Linked DNA regions of Homo sapiens. The protein of the gene in region 1 interacts with the protein of each later gene in a pairwise test. Each region holds a gene or a part of one and is shown in the gene's direction. Other genes may lie near its edges.

Evidence for each region.
Region 2: the proteins of ARFGAP3 (region 1) and TGFBR2 interact in binary tests that used the Homo sapiens proteins (3 or more experiments, as listed by UniProt).
Region 3: the proteins of ARFGAP3 (region 1) and DNM2 interact in binary tests that used the Homo sapiens proteins (3 or more experiments, as listed by UniProt).

The regions. Positions count from the first base shown.
Region 1 is NC_000022.11:42,801,545-42,805,295, reverse strand, and holds part of ARFGAP3 (ADP-ribosylation factor GTPase-activating protein 3), read left to right. Parts: intron 1-3,751.
Region 2 is NC_000003.12:30,612,979-30,616,643, forward strand, and holds part of TGFBR2 (TGF-beta receptor type-2 isoform B precursor), read left to right. Parts: exon of another isoform or gene 1-1,682; coding exon of another isoform or gene 1,683-1,728; intron 1,729-3,665. UniProt on the Homo sapiens protein: Transmembrane serine/threonine kinase forming with the TGF-beta type I serine/threonine kinase receptor, TGFBR1, the non-promiscuous receptor for the TGF-beta cytokines TGFB1, TGFB2 and TGFB3.
Region 3 is NC_000019.10:10,770,005-10,773,755, forward strand, and holds part of DNM2 (dynamin-2), read left to right. Parts: intron 1-2,474; coding exon 2,475-2,624; intron 2,625-3,751. UniProt on the Homo sapiens protein: Catalyzes the hydrolysis of GTP and utilizes this energy to mediate vesicle scission at plasma membrane during endocytosis and filament remodeling at many actin structures during organization of the actin cytoskeleton.

The DNA.
Region 1 (3,751 bases):
GAGCAGCCTTTCCAGTTACTGAACAAAAATAGTGGCAGCCTGTGTTTACCTTCCTGTTCCCTTTCAGAGAACAAAGATCCATTAAATTTTTTTGACCCTGTGTGGATGCCAAACCAACCCTGGTTCCTGGCACCTCGTGGTCATTGTAAGGTGCACCCTGGGGTGAGAGGCCACCCAGAAACTCACTCCCCTGCCCCCGCCGGGGTCTAACTGTGTTGCCCAGGCTGGTCTCAAACTCCGGGCCTTGAGCAAACCTCCCTCCTCAGCCTCCCAAGAAGCTGGAATTACAGGCACCAGCAACTTTTATTAAATATTTACTTTTTATTATTCAGAGCATATTTCAACAAAGAGCTTTGTGTGTTCTGCCTCCATAAAGCTTGTTTTATTTTATAAATTTTTTTTTCTTTTATTTTGTCTTTAATACTTTCCTATTGAAGTAAAAGCTTGTTTTAAGAAAACAAGTTCTTAAAACTTGTTCTGGGCAAGGCACGGTGACTCACACCTGTAATCCCAACACTTTGGGAGGCCGAGGTAGGCGGATCACCTGAGGTCGAGAGTTCAAGAGCAGCCTGGCTAACATGGTGAAACCCCATCCCTTCTAAAAATACAAAAATTAGGCCAGTCACAGTGGCTCACGCCTGTAATCCCAGTACTTTGGGAGGCCGAGGCGGGTGGATCACGAGGTCAAGAGATCGAGACCAGCCTGGCCAACATGGTGAAGCCCCATCTCTACTAAAAATACAAAAACTAGCTTGGCGTGGTGGCATGTGCCTGTAGTCCCAGCTACTCCGGAGGCTGAGGCAGGAGTATCGCTTGAACCTGGGAGGTGGGAGTTGCAGTGTGCCGAGATCACACCGCTGCACTCCAGCCTGGAGACAGAGCGAGACTCCATCTCAAAAAAAAAAAAAAAAAAAAAAAATTAGCTGGGTGTGGTGGTGGGCGCCTGTAATCCCAACCACTCAGGCGGCTGAGGCACAAGAATTGCTTGAACCTGGGACGGGGATGTTGCAGTGGCCGAGATCGCACCATTACACTCCAGCCTGGGCAATAGAATGAGATTCTGTTTCAAAAAAAAGAAAAGGAAAAAAGAAACTATTCTGCTTGGTGGCTCACCCCTATAATCCAGCACTTTGGGAGGCTGAGGAAGACGTATCGCTTGAGCTCAGGAGTTCCAGACCAGCCTGGGCAACATGGCAAAACCGTGTCTCTACAAAAAATACAAAAATTAGCCAGGCATGGTGGTGCACACCTGTAGTCCCAGCTACTCTGGAGGCTAAGGTGGGAGGATGACCTGAGCCCAGGAGGCAGAGGTTACAGTGATCTGAGATCGTGCCACTGCACTCCAGCCTGGGTGATAGAGCCAGGCCTTGTATCAAAAAAAAAAAAAAAAAAAAAGAGGAAGGAGGGAGGGAAGGAAGGAAGGAAGGAAACAATCAGTTCTGTGTTCCTTATCTTAATTTCCAAATGTGAAACGCTTCTGGTGAGGTAAGCTGCTTTCTGGGGGTGTTTCTAGCCCAGGAGACCTGCGGCCGTTCTTACGGGCACTCTCTTTCACTGTAGCTGAAGGATTGAGTGGGAAGCGCATGTAAGTGCCTGCAGCCAACCTGACCTGGCACAGCAACAGTCCCTGTGGTCACACCCATGGGACAGGGTCATTAGAGCTGGGGGACTGCCATCAGCTGGGCACTGCCTCAGGCAGGCGTGAGGCACTCAGACACCAGATGACAGAGTGGAGGCAGCTGTGTGAGAGCCAGGATACAACAAAAAGCTTAAAACCCAGCTGCCCCCTCAGCATGTTTCCTCCCAGAAAGCCAATTCTGATTGTTTGAATGAGAGCACGTCTGCATGGGAGTGCAGACACCTGCACCCCTTCCTTGTGTGCATCGTGGGGTCAAGTGGTAGGTTGTTTGTGAGGTCCCTTAACCACTGTCTCCTTTTCTCTTTGCTCCAGCCCAGGGTCTAGGAGTGTGACCTCGAAAGCACTGCCCTCAGTCTGCATCAGGCAGTCTGGTTTGGTTATTGCCATGTGTGCTTGTCAGACAGTATAGCTGTGCAGTGGCCCCAGGAGTTCCAGACCAGCCTGGACAACATAGTGGGACCCCCATCTCTACAAAAAATTTAAAAAATAAAAAAATTAGCTAGGTGCGATGGCTAATGCCTATAGTTCCAATTACTCGGAGGCTAAGGCAGGAGGATCACTTGAACCCAAAAGATTGAGGCTGCAGTCAGCTGTGATCACACCACTGTACTCCAGCCCGGGCAACAGAGGGAGTCCCTGTCTCAAACAAACAATGCCCAAACTTGTTCTTATAATCTTGGAAATACTTTTTCTCTTCATTTGTCTGCATGAAGCAGAGAAATTAATACGTGGTATTCTATTAAAAATTCTTATTTTGGGCCAGGTGTGGTGGCTCACGCCTGTAATCCCAGCACTTTGGGAGGCCGAGGCGGGCAGATCACGGGTCAGGAGATCGAGACCATCCTGGCTAACATGGTGAAACCACATCTCTACTAAAAATACAAAAAATTAGCCAGGCATGGTGGTGGGCGCCTGTAGTCCCAGCAACTCGGGAGGCTGAGGCAGGAGAATGGCGTGAACCTGGGAGGTGGAGCTTGCAGTGAGCCGAGATCGCACCACTGCACTCCAGCCTGGGCAACAGAGCAAGACTCCATCTCAAAAAAAAAAAAAAAATTCTTATTTTGGGCCAGGCGCGGTGGCTCTCGCCTGTAATCCCAGCACTTTGGGAGGCTGAGGCGGGTGGATCACAAGGTCAGGAGATTGAGACCATCCTGGCTAACACGGTGAAACCCCATCTCTACTAAAAAATACAAAAAAAAAAAAATTATCTGGGCGTGGTGGCGGGCACCTGTAGTCCCAGCTACTCCAGAGGCTGAGGCAGGAGAATGGCGTGAACCTGGGAGGCGGAGCTTGCAGTGAGCTAAGATCGCGCCACTACACTCCAGTCTGGGTGACACAGCGAGACTCTGTCTCAAAAAAAAAAAAAAATTGTTATTTTGAGGAGCCTGGGAGTTGTCCTGGAAACTTCCACCTCCCACGTCACACCATAGACCCATATGATCAGAATCTCTCCTGGGTGACTCCAGACCTGAAACGTGGCCACAACCCGCTGCTTGGTCCTCCTGCCTCCAGTCTTGGCTGCTGCTCACCCCTCTCCTCACTCTTCCCACAGGGATCTTTCAGAACACAGTCATCTGTGCTGAAAATCCTGCCCTCAGCTTGAAGCACAGCTCCCCACCCAATGCCCACCTCCAGGACCATGGTTCCCACTGGCCTTTCCAGCCTCATTTCTCGTGATTCACTGTTGTGGCTCACTCCAGCTGTGTTGAGCCTGTGGAGCCCCCAGCCCAGAATGCTCTTCTTCCCCATTCCCCCAGACAGCCCCGCAACCCGTATTTACCCTGGGGGCCTGGTTAGGCCCCCTTGCACCACTCTTGTGCCTTACACTGAGGGCAAGACCATGCGAAGACCGTCTCCCCCAGTGGACTGTCAGTTCTCATTTCTGTGCCCTTGGCGCCTGACAGCCTGGCAGAGGAAGCCCTCTGCAGGTGTTTGAGGATGAATGGGTGGAGGGGTGATGAATGACCCCAAGGAGCTTGCTGAGTCTGAGCACCTGCCCACCGGCCAACATAGGCTGGAACACGCCTCCCCCTACCTCCCATGTCCCATGGCCAGTGCCAGGCTGCAGGGGCGATGTGTTCCGCCTCCAGCACAAGCCTTAAGAGCTGTGCG
Region 2 (3,665 bases), on another chromosome or scaffold:
ACTTATGGCCTCCTGCTTAGACTCTTAAGGGTTCCCTAGCATCTGTGTTTTGTTTGTAGGTTTGAAGCTATCATTATTAGATGAGATTTAGCTTCAGGGCCCGTACCTATGACTGGGGAGATTCTATCTGGGAAAGGTCAAGACATGCAGCTCTTTTTTTTTTTTTTTTTTCTTCTCTTTTCTGAGGGAATATTTTCCTCCAATTTTTTTCAGCTCTACAACTAAAATATAGACCTAGTATATGAACACAACTGGCCTCTGTCCTGGGCCTTAGATGGTACTCTGCTGTCATTCTTCTCTGGTCAGAGCCATGCCTATGGGGTGAGGTGACTTTTGGGCCTTCCAGTCTTACTCTCTTTTCATTTTTAGACCATGATTTGGTTATGTGGGAACCCACATTCGCTGTCCAGAAGGCCCTGAACTGGTATCTGCAGTTTGCATGGATCCTTGAAGCCATCTTCCTGAAGGCTGTCATTGCTACTGGTTGTGCAATCTCTGCACGAGGGTTGTTTAAGGGATAGCTCTGTGTGTGTGTGTGTCTGTATGTGAGAGAGAGAGAGAGAGAGAGAGAGAAAGAGAGAGAGAGACAGAGAGCGAGCTTGGGTGTCCACATATCACAAGGCCCCTCTTGATGTAGGATGGAGCAGGCAGGGGGGAGGAAGGCAAATTGATTACCAGGGCTCAGGATGATGTCTCTCTTTAAACCACCCATTTCTGTGGAAGGACTATGAACATTGTAGGAGTTCTAAAGTTGTACCTGGTCTTCCAAGACATTGAAAAGATATATTTGTCAGTCTAGGTAGAAGGATAACACCTATTTTATTGAGCAGTTTGCTAGCTTGATTTGTAACTTTAAATGTTTTGACTTATGGTACATGGGCCTCTATTTGCTCACTTGCCTTGGGCCTTCCCATGTTGGGGGTGGATCTGCAGCAGCAACATTCCTTTGCAGAGATGTTGGGTAGAAATAAGTTTTGGTTAATTGTACCATTTTTTCCCTGGAATAGACAACATTGAACATTAAAGAAAAAATGAGTTACTTTGTAGACATAGTGCTCTATTTCCTTTGGGAAATGTAGTTTTTCTTAGTTTGCGTTGTCCTGAAGTGAACTTTAGCTCTATACTTTTTTTCTTTCCTTTTTTTTTTTTTTTTTTTAGATTTCCTAGTGCCCTAGTTGCATTTCTTCTGTGTATTGAGAGACCACCAGGCGGGCAAGGTGAAGTTTATCTGAATGTTTTTTCCTCCTATTGTAAATATTTTATTTGAACCAAAAAAAGGCTTGGTTCTTCTCAAGCCTCTTTAAAGAAAACAAGGAAAAAGGCTTCTCAGTGCTTTAGAAGATATAAGATTGTCAAAACTTCATTTTAGAGAACTAGGGATTTGGTTGAACCAACATGAATGCCTTTGAAAGAAGATATGGGTTGGGTGCATATTTTCAGTATATGCTGCAGCAGCTCTTTATTAAAGTATAAATCATTACGAAGTCTTCATTTCCTATGGGGCGATAACACTGCTGCTTTGTGGATGACTACCTGTCACGCCCAAATCCTGCAAACTTTTCTACATAGGGAAATGAAATTGGGCTTATTTCCCCTGTAGCTTTTCTCAAGAGACTTCATGGACTAATTTCCCAATAATCATAGTAGCTACCACTTATTGAGGTCTTGCTACTGCACGGATCATGCTGAGTACTTCAGGTGTATTAACCCTCAAAACAACTTTAGAAGGTAGGTTATATTATGCTTATTATAAATCCTCCAGAGTCAATAAATTTGCCTAAGTCCACCTAGTTAGAAAATGATTAGGCTGGGGTTGGAACCAAGATGGTCTGGTTTGGGGATCTAGATTCCTAATTGTTATACTGTACTGAGACTAGTCTGCCTTAATTGACATAAACTACTTGTCCATTATAGCATGGGTGTTGGAAGACTAGAGGTTAAGAGAAATAATAATATCCAACATTTTTCTAGTGTTTTAGCATTCTTCATATATTATCCCATTGCATTTTCTTAGTGTAATAAAATAACACTCGGTTTATACACCAGGTAGTCAAACATCATGCCTGTCTTGTGATCTCAATGGAAAAATGAAGTGTATACCTCAAGTGATACAGTCTTGGCTGAATCATGGAACAATTATGCCATCAGGAAGTTTAGGTATTCTGAGTAAAACAGGCACTTTATTTGAAAGGACTGGGAGACTTCACAGATGCATCAAATATGTTGAGGATATAAATGCCAGGCTCAGGTGGATTTACTGTGAAGTGCTTGAACTTAACCTTCAAGGCTACCTATACCCTGGTATAGGTCCATCTCCTGGCTCTAGGAGAGGCCCTGGCAATGTGGTTAACAAGTGTCATCAAGTCAAATACTACGAAATCTTGCAGTGCCCTGAATCTTACAGCTCACATATAAAAGAAACCTGATAAAAGTTTTCCAAATTTGAAGTCAATCCAAAAAATTTATATGACATTACCTGTAATGAATTATGAAGCTGAAAGGAACTTTTCCAAATTATTCAAGAATAAATTACAAATTCTGATCTACATTTCTAAAGGGAAGACTGAATTATTTTTCTATTCTCTCAATAGAGAATATTGCAAAATGTTATTGGAAGAGATGATCAAAGAGTGTGCAACCAAAAAATATAGGAGAATTATTTCAGAGGTATGGCAATCAGTTAATAAAAATATTTGTTTTTTAAACACTTCATATTTGTAGTATTTATAGCTTTTAAAAATTTGTTGTTTGTATGATACTATTTAAAATTTTTTTTCCAGAGATGAGATCTCATTCTGTCACTCAGTCTGGAAAGCAGTTGCATAATCATAACTCACTGCAGCCTTGGAGTCCTAGGTTCAAGCAGTCCTCTAGAGTAGCTCGGACTAAAGGCATGCACCACCAAGACCGGCCAGTTTTTTGTTTTTTGTTGTTTTTTAATTTTTGTAGAGATGGTGTCTTACTATGTACCAAGTCTGGTCTTGAACACTGGGGCTCAGAGGAACCTGTCCACCTCTGCCTCCCAAAGTGTTAGGATTACAGGTGTAAGCCACTGCACCCGGCCTGTATGCCATTTTAATTCTAAATAAATATTCACTTTATTCTTAATTTTATATTCACTTTATTCTTAATTTTGTATTCTTCTTCTTAAAGAGTGCCCCTGAAATTTACAAGCTTCAGATTCCAAAGACCTGAGTCTTTGACTAATGGTAGGATTTGTTTGTTGGTTTAGAAAATAAATGTTAAAAAATGCCTCTTCCTCCTTCCCCCCATTGCAAACAGAGACTGAAATCTGCATTGTTATTTCACAAAACCAAAATATTTTTCCTCCAGGTTTAGCTAAACCCTTCATCATTTTCCTACTTTAGAGCCCCATGCCAAGTAGAAAAGAAGTTGCAAAGATGTAATTATCACAAACCTTCATCTTGGATGAAAGATAACCTAGCTCTGACCCTTAGTTTGAGATTAGAAGGACTCTACCTAGGAGACAGCTGGTAAAGACTAAGGTATGTTGTACCAGGAATCTAGGTGTCTGGGTGACCAGGCTGTCTTTCTTCCCACTGGGGCTCATTTTCCTTCTATACAGTGACAAGAATTGGACTAAATAAGATTTCCAGTATTTTCTCTTCTGAAACATTTCATTCTTTGTTATCCCTGTACTATTT
Region 3 (3,751 bases), on another chromosome or scaffold:
GCCCTTAACCCCTCTGGGCCTCAGTTTTGTCATCTTTGAAATGGGGATCTTAGAGATGCCTACCTGTCAAGGGACTTGTGAGGCGCAACGGGACCACACGCAGGGCCTGGCCAGAGTGCCGTAGTTTCTTCGGTTGCCATGATGGGACGGTGAAACTCCTCACACTCTTCTTTCTGCCTTGAAGATTCTAGACCTGGCTGGGTGTTCATCTCCCTTTTTGCCTTTGCTTGAGGCAGTTTATGGCATGGCTGTGTTATTCACGTCGCCAGGTCTCCTCCTGGTGGACGTTGAGGCCATTTTCATTTTTTTACTCTTAAAAACGACAGGGCAGTGCGCATCTTCGCATCTCCGGGGTGGGTCAGGTCTCTGACCTCTTTGCCAGTGTGACTTATTACCCCTTTCTTTCTTTGTTTTTCTTTTTGAGACAGTGTCTTGCTCTGTCGCCAGGCTGGAATGCAGTGGTGTGATCATAGATCATAGCTCACTGCAACCTCCAGCTCCTGGCTCAAATGATCCTCCCACTTCAGCCGATATTAATCCATTTTCATGCTGCTGATAAAGACGTATTTGAGACCGGGCAATTTACAAAAGAAAGAGGTTTAATGGAGTTACAGTTCCACACAGCTGGGCTGGGGAAGCCCCACAATCATGGCAGAAGGCAAGGAGGAGCAAGTCACATCTTATACGGATGGCAGCTGGCAAAGAGAGTGAGAGAGCTTCTGCAGGGAAACTCCTGTTTTTAAAACCATCAGATCTCGTGAGACTTATTCTCTATCACGAGAATAGCACGGGAAAGACCCACCCCCATGATTCATTGATCTCCCACTGGGTCCCTGCTACAACACAAGGGAATTATGGGAGCTACAAGATGAGATTTGGGTGGGGACACAGAGCCAGACCATATCAGCCTCCCAAGTAGCTGGAACTACAGGTGTGCGCCAACATGCCTGGCTAATTTTTTAAATTTCTGTAGAGACGGGGTCTCACTGTGTCACCCAGGCCGGTCTTGAACTCCTGGGCTCAAGTGATCCACCCTCCTCGGCGTCCCACAGTGCTGGATAATAGGCGTGAGCCACTGTGCCCAGCCATTTCCCCCTTATTTTTAGCATCACTACAGTAGCTGTGATCTCTGAGCTTTGGGGATATCCCCTCCCCAACATTTTACTCTGAAAATTCGAACATCTGGAAACGTCAAGGCTTTGTACAGTGGACACCTGTGTACTCGGCAGCCACCTTCCGTGATGAACATGCCTTATATTTGCTTTGTCCTCAATCTGTGATTCGGGACTGGATTTCTCTTGTTTCCTGGTGGGACCCACACTGCTTGTCAATTACTTATTTTGTTCCCCTTCATCCCAGTCTTGCTGTGACTTTCAGATACCCCCGGGTCTTATATACACTCAGGGTTATACCCAGAAAACATTTCTCCTGGGGGATTTGTCTCTAGGTAGGGGGCCCTCTTGAATAGTCAGGGGGAGAAAGAAAGACTCAAGACCAGCTCTGAGGAGGCGGCAGGGGTGCCCCTTCCCTCTACCTTGTGGGCTCCTTGGGGAAGAAGGACAAGTGAGTGCCATGAGAAATACCCCTGGGGATTTTGTGGAGCTGGAATGTGCTGGTGGACCATGAATCCACAAGGACTTGGGCATCGAACTCCCTTGACTGGGACCCACAGCAAGGGAGGCTCTGCAGCATCACCTTAATCAAATGGACTCACCCTCTCTGGGTGATGTATCCTGGTGCTTCCTCTTCTGTTCATCAGTCAATCAACAAATAAATGGCTGGGCGTGGAGGCATATGCCTGTAATCCCAGAAACTTTGGTCATTGGTTATGTCTACCTGTTTATTTTTGGGGGAGGGGGATTCATAATATGTCATGACGTATATTAACAGTTTGCAAAGTGCCACATGGGAACGTAATCTTCAGGATCTGGAAAGAGGCTCAGTCTATTCAGTCTATAGGAACCCCCGCCTCCCCCAAGACCCTTGTCATGAGAACGAATCTTTCACTCCCAAATTCCTAGAGTGACGATGATTGGGTCATTATTTTCTTTTTTATTTTATTTTATTTTATTTTATTTATTTTTTTATTTTTTTGAGATGGAGTCTTCTCTGTCTCCCAGGCTAGAGTGCAGTGGCGCAATCTCGGCTCACTACAACCTCCGCCTCCCGGGTTCAAGCAATTATCCTGCCTCAGCCTCCTGAGTAGCTGAGACTACAGGCATGTGCCACCATGCCAGGCTAATTTTTTGTATTTTTAGTAGAGACAGGGTTTCACCATGTTAGTGAGGATGGTCTGAATCTCCTGACCTTGTGATCTGCCCACCTCTGCCTCCCAAAGTGCTGGGATTACAGGCGTGAGCTACTGTGCCCAGCCTGGGTCATTACTTTCATTCAACAAAGCATTTCTCCCCGCAGTCCATGCGCACCCTGCCCACAGCTCTTTCTCATTTTCAGCATCTCTCTTCCCTTTCTAGAACATGCCGAGTTTTTGCACTGCAAGTCCAAAAAGTTTACAGACTTTGATGAAGTCCGGCAGGAGATTGAAGCAGAGACCGACAGGGTCACGGGGACCAACAAAGGCATCTCCCCAGTGCCCATCAACCTTCGAGTCTACTCGCCACACGGTAGGCAGCACGGGTGGGGACCCATCACTGACCGTTTCTGGTCGTTCATGGACAGTGCTATGGGTGAGCCTGTGTACTTCCACTCATGGGTATCATGTGCCCATTCACAAACAGTTGATATTCACACACACATAGCCCCTTGATCTGTATCTTCCCACTTGTGCTAGGTATGTAGTACCCAGACCTCTGTCTCAGCTTGAAGAAAGAGCATGCCAAGAAGTTGTTTGGAGTGGTGGGGGATTGCAGCCATTTCCCCCTTTTACCAAGGGCAGCCACCACTTGGCTCAAGGCAGCCAGATCTGCTGGTGCCTCAAGAGAGGCCAGAACCAGTCTTCTGTAAAATATCCTGGGTTTTTTTTTTTTTTTTTTGAGACAGAGTCTTGCTCTGTTGCCCAGTCTGGGGTTCAGTGGTGTGATCTCTGCTCGCTGCAACCTCCACCTCCCAGGTTCAAGCAATTATTGTGCCTCAGCCGCCCAAGTAGCTGGGATTACAGGCATGCACCACTACACCCAGCTAATTTTTTTTTTTTTTTTTTTGAGATGGAGTCTCGCTCTGTCGCCCAGACTGGAGTACAGTGGTGTGATCTCAGCTCACTGCAGTCTCCGCCTCCCAGGTTCAAGCTATTCTCCTGCCTCAGCCTCCCAAGTAGCTAGGACTAGAGGCAACTGCCGCCACGCCTGGCAAATTTTTTGTATTTTTAGTAGAGATGGGATTTCACCATATTGGCCAGGCTTGTCTCAAACTCCCGACCTTGTGATCTGCCCACTTTGGCCTCCCAAAATGCTGGGATTACAGACGTGAGCCGCCGCGCCCGGCCAAATTTTTTTTTTTTTTTTTGAGACAGAGTCTCGCTCTGTTGCCCAGGCTGGAGTGTAGTGGCGCAATCTCCACTCAATGCAACCTTCACCTCCCGGGTTCAAGCAATTCTCTGGCCTCAGCCTCCCGAGTAGCTGGGATTACAGGTGTGTACCACCCTGCCTGGCTAATTTTTTTTTTATTTTTTATTTTTTTTATTTTTAGTAGAGACGGGGTTTCACCATGTTGCACAGGCTGGTCTCGAACTCCTGAGCTCAGGCAATCCACCCACCTCAGACTCCCAAAGTGCTAGGATTACAGGCGTGAGCCA